2 separate regions of the Homo sapiens genome follow, and region 1 is linked to region 2. Evidence: fine-mapped expression QTL. A gene starts in region 2. The other region holds a variant in brackets. All regions are shown on one strand. Distances are between the middles of the regions. Region 1 has its middle 64 kb from the start of DHX36. Region 2 holds the start of DHX36 (DEAH-box helicase 36).

What was found. PIP is the estimated chance that this variant, and not a neighbour inherited with it, causes the effect.
Region 1: its variant is fine-mapped to the expression of DHX36 in ovary (GTEx, PIP 0.94).

The regions. Positions count from the first base shown.
Region 1 is chr3:154,259,001-154,262,037 of GRCh38, forward strand. No RefSeq gene overlaps it. Among named protein-coding and RNA genes, the nearest start is that of DHX36, 64 kb to the right of the region's middle. The variant C/CAT (reference allele first, on the strand shown) is at 1,649.
Region 2 is chr3:154,323,191-154,325,690 of GRCh38, forward strand. It overlaps DHX36 (DEAH-box helicase 36), which reads right to left and starts at 1,297. Exons shown (of 25, transcript NM_020865.3): 1 at 984-1,297. The coding sequence starts at 1,226. RefSeq lists an enhancer at 1,190-1,484.

The DNA of each region.
Region 1 (3,037 bases), 64 kb before region 2:
CCCTGGAAGTAGCAGGATGCATCCTCCTATTTGCTCCATCCCCTATCTGAAATCGCTGATGCATTTTTCCTAGGCTTTGGCAAGTACCAGAGAGGCAGAGCTACTTGGTGGACTTGCAGTGCTAAAAAATAATCCAGGTCAGTGTTTAGTACCATTAATAACACTTCTCATGGATTTGGTCCCTAAAGGGCTTATTCTCCTGTGGGAGTATGAATCTGAAAGATCTAAAGGTTTGCTTTCTGAGTTTTCAGTATATTAAAGTCCTGGAAGAAGAAAACACATCCTGTCTCTGAAAGAAACCAGCATCATCAGAACTAAGACTTCTGTTACTTCTAAAAGCAAATTGTCAAAGTTTCAGTAAACACTAAGACATGGCATTGTGATCCAGAAAAAAACAAACACAGGGACTCTGTATACTAGAATCATTAGGTATAGACATTAAAGTACTTACCATTGCTGTTGATGGAGATAAAGCCATAACGGAACTACACAGCTGTGTAGTAGAAGAAAAAAACCTAGAAATTATGGAACCGCGTTTAATGCCAGATTAGGTAAGAGTTAAAAGAGATATTGGGGAACGGGAAGAGAGGCTAGAAGATTCTACCCATAAGGAAGCATGGAGAGAGGAGACCTGGAGAATGTAGGGATTTAACTGGAATCCCAGAGGAGAGTGGAGAGAGAAAGCAGCATTGGCAAGGGGCTGGACCTTTATAACCCTGCTCTGACCAGATATGAGAGGCAGGCTATCCCCAGGAAAAGAGAGTGGTCTTGGATAAGGTGGCTCCCTTCAGCTCAGGACAATTCCCATAGAGGGTTGATGGGTGAAGGCTGTCATCCAGTTGCATTCCCAGCACCTAAAGCAAAAAGTCCTTCAGTCCTGATGGGGGGTCAGGGCAGAACATCACAACGTTCACTAAATGGAGCTCTATCAATGTTACATAAAGTGGTCTTTAGGGTAAAAGGTATCACTAGGGATAAAGTGGGTGCCTACATAGTGATGAACGTTTCATCTAATCAGGAAGATGGAGTAACTTAAATATATATTCTAGCAATAACCTAGCATATTTAACTATATGGCCTCAACTAAATAAAGTTGGCAGAAATATAAGAAAAAATAATTAAAATCATAGCATGAGACTTCAACACATCTCTCAGTATTTGATAGGAAGAATAGATACAATCAGGAAAAGAATAGAAAATTTTAATGAAATAGTTTAACATAATGGGAATATATAGGACACTCTGCAAACAATTTCAGCATATACATACTTTTCAAGCACATAAAATATTTACAACATTTGGCTATTCCCTGGGCCATAAGGCAAATTCCAACAAATTTTAAAGAACTGAAGTTATGCAGAGTGAGTTCTTTGATGGCAACATAAGTAGGTCAGAAAACAAAAATTAAGAATTATCAATTTATTTGGAAAGTTAGGCCTTTCCAAATGCAAAATTATAAAATTCCTTGAAGATGACATAGGAGACAATCTAGGTGACCTCGGGTTTGGTAATGACTTTTTATCTACAACATAAAAAGTATGGTCCATGAAGAAAAAAAATTGGTAAGTTGAACTTTTACAGTAAAAACCTCAGTTCTGTGAAAGACACTGTTAGAATAAAAAGCCACAGACAGGAAATATTTGCAAAA[C/CAT]AAAGGATTGGCAATCAAAAACATACAGAAAACTTAAAACTCAACAGAAAAACAACCCAGTGTTCAAATTCAGGGGTGGCGGGGGGGGAACTAGGCAACTCACCAAAGATAACACAATTAGTAAATAAACATATGAAAAGATATCTAAGATCATACATGAGGGATGAATTTAAAGGAGATGCCACTATATTCATTAGAATAGCTGAAGTCTAAGACCCTGAAAATACCAAATACTGATGAGGATGTGGAGCAGCAGGAACTCTTACTCACTGCTGATGGAAATGCAAAAACAACTTGGGAAGACAGTTGGGCAGTTTCTTAGAGAAATACACACCTACCATATGATCCAACAATTACACTCCTTGGTATTTATCCAAATGAGTTGAAAATATGCCCACAGGAAAACCTGCACATAAATGTGTATAGCAGCTTTACTCATAATTGTCAAAACTTGAAAGCAACTAAGATGTCCTTCAATAGATGAATGGATAAACTGTTACATCTATACAATGGGATATTAATGAGCAATAAAAAAAAGTTATCAAGCCATAAAAAGACATGAAGTAACCTTAAATGCACATTGCCAGGTGAAAGAAGCCAATCTGAAAAGCCTACACACTTTATGACTCCAAATAAATGACATTCTGGAAAGGCAAACCACATAGAGTGGTTGCCTGGGACTCAGGGGTAGGGAGGGAAGAATAGGTAGAGCACAGAGGATTTTTTAGGGCAGTGAAAGTGTTCTCTGATACGGTGATAGTGGATACATATACATGTGTCAAAATGTACAACACAAAGAGTGAACCCTATGTAAACTACGGACTTTAATAATGAAGTATCAAAATTAGCTCATTAATTATAACAAATATAATCCATAATACAAGATGTTAATTTAAAAAAACTGGTGGGAGGGGGTAAAGGGGATTATGGGACCTCTGTACCTTTTGCTCAATTTTTCTGTAAACCTAAAACTGCTCTAAAAAGTGAAGTATTAATTTTTAAAAAAGAATTGCTGAAGAAAGTTTTTCAAAGTAAGGAAATAACAGAATGAAACTTGGAAGATGAGGAATGAAGAACAGAATGGGTAAACATTTGGGTAAATATAATAGGCTATCCTTGAGTTTTAAAAATGTGAGATGGCTGAAAGCAAAATTATATTATCTGACATGGTTGTCAATGTATGTAAAGGAATTATTTAAGAAAATAAATTATAAAGCAGTAAGCTAAATACCTAAGTGGCTGTAAAGTTCTTACATTTCACTAGAAGTGTCAAACTGTTGATACTAGTCAACTGATGTTATATATGTATACTGTAATCCACTGAGCAACAAAAAATGTATACGAAGTGATATATTTAAAAACACAATAGACAAGGCAAAACAGAACAGT
Region 2 (2,500 bases):
CGGAGGTGGTGGCGGACGCCTGTAATCCCAGCTACTCGGGAGGCTGAAGCAGGAGAATCGCTTGAACTTGGGAGGCGGAGGTTGCAGTGAGCTAAGATCGTGCCACTGCACTCCAGCCTGGGCGACAGAGTGAGACCCTGTCTTAAAAAAAAAAAAAGTTGCCTAAATGATGATCTAATTACACTCTATAATACATTTTATAAGGTGCTTTTAAAAAGTCACCAAAGGCCTATACTAAGAAAGTTCCTGCTTAATGATAAAAATTATTTTTTATTAGAATTTTATTTACTAGTCACTCGGAGAACTTTGTTTCCCTTACTACAGATCTTTAAGACACAAATCAACCTGACAATCACCTGAAGAGAGGAGAGTAAGCCAAATCATCTCTGGAGATTCCTTTCATTTTCCTTTTCAAAGAGAATCTGCTCATCAATAGAAATTTCTCCACCCCAACATAAAAAACAAAAACCTAGGTTTGCAGATAATTTTAACACTAATAATAAAAGCTGGACTATTTTTCTGAATGATCCACATCCAAAACAGTGTCTGCCTGCTTTTGTTCCGCGCAAACCTATCTCAAATGTAGAAAGGTCGCTATGTGCTTCTTCACCAGGCAAAGACCTTAAAGTGACAATTATTATTCTAAGGGAAAGGACGGCCAGAGATACGACAACGACACTCCTAATAAAGTTAATTTCGGTTGGAACGTGAACTTAACATTTGCTTTGTCACAGTTCTCAAGTCCTTTAAGCAAAGTATATATTCAGCCTGCATAAATCCTGCCTGTTTTTGGTCAGATGAGCATGGCTAATGTTACGCAGTACACCCGCTACGGGGAGCGCCAGCATAATATATTTGCGCCTCATTTACATTTCACAAAACACGTGCATCACTTAAGAAACAAAACCAAGAAAAAGGGGGCAGCGGGAGAGAGAAGAAAACCTGTGCTGCCTCATCCTCTCCACTACTGAATCCGAGATTACCTCTTGCCTCTCCGCTTCCTTGTTCTTCTGCCCCTGTTTTTTCGCGTACCACATGCCGATTTCGCGGCCTTTCAGGTGCCCGGGATGCCGGCCCCTGCCGCCTCGACCACCCCCTCCGCCGCCGCCGCCTCCTCCGGAGCCTCGGTTACCTCCATGACCCCCTGCTGGCCCCCCTCCATAGCCCCCACCGGAGCTGCGGGGACCCCCATCACGGCCCCAGTTCTGATGGTAGTCATAACTCATTGTCCTGGCAGACTACAACCCGTCAGAACCAGCAACCGCTGGAAATGGCGTCCGGGCCCGGAAGCCACTGTGCGCCCACTTCCGTTTTGCTTCCGTAGCACCGCACAAGAGGGCGGGCCATTTAGCGTCACAAGCAGTGGTTTCTGGTGACGTCACGGGAGGACGACCCCGGTGGTCTGGAGGGTGGCAGGGATCAGGTTCTGTCTGAGCCCCCGAGTTGTTTATCTTTGTACCTCTGGAGCAACAGCCAGCCAAAGGCTCGTAGATTTTCTTTCCCTAGGCCCAGCAAGTGAGCCAATAGCTTTTGGTTTTTACTTTCTTATTCCTGGTAAATCCGCAGTTTTTTTGCACTTAGGTCCTAGGGTAGTAAACGTTGATTGAAACAAAAGAACCCTTGGATCAATTCGCCGTCTTCTAAAGAAAAGTCTCTAAAAAATGAGTTCTTCTAGTCTTGAAAACAGCCTGACAACTATTCAAATATGTAATTTAAAATCCCCTTACCTCCTTGAAAGTGTTGTCACTATTTAGTACGTTTATCCAATAGTGTTAAGATGAGCGTGTCTACCCAAATTCGGTGCAGAGCTCTTAGGCAATGTAAATAAACTACTTTGAAGATTCATGTGTTCATATGAAGCCACATACTGTTTATTAACCAGCACACTGAGTGTTTTGTACAAGCTGTTCTTGAATAATCAAGTAATTGGGCCACACAGGCTTGGATGTACACCAGGAGATATCCAGCTCATGTTACAGTTAACTGATGTAAAGGTGCTGGGAATACTCACTGAACAAAGCAAGTATGGCATGAGCTTTTATTTGCCTACAGTCTTAAGGGAAAGACAAAGGCTATCTTTGTGCAGTGAATTAAGAAAGGGAAATGCTGTATGCCAGGAAGGGGTCTACAATACACCATTGTGGCCTAAAAATTATTTTGAGCAAAGACATTTGAGTTTCTGAAATCTACCTGTCTAAATGCAGAACCACACGGAGGAATTCAAATCAAGCTCCTCCCTGGGAGGGAAACCCAGGAAGACTGACTCTTATCACTGGAGGTTAGAAGCTGGCAACACACTTGAATAGACATTGTCACAAAGCTATCATATCTGGCATCTGTTTTAAGGTGTCATTTATTTTTACTAAAAGTCATTTGTTTTTTCCATACGTGCTGTTTTCCCCTTTCCTTCCCTTTATAAGATGGTAGATAAGTCAGAACTCTACCTCCCTGAATCACCTTTTTCTGTGAACTCTATTATGTATGTGGTTAAGTCTGTCTT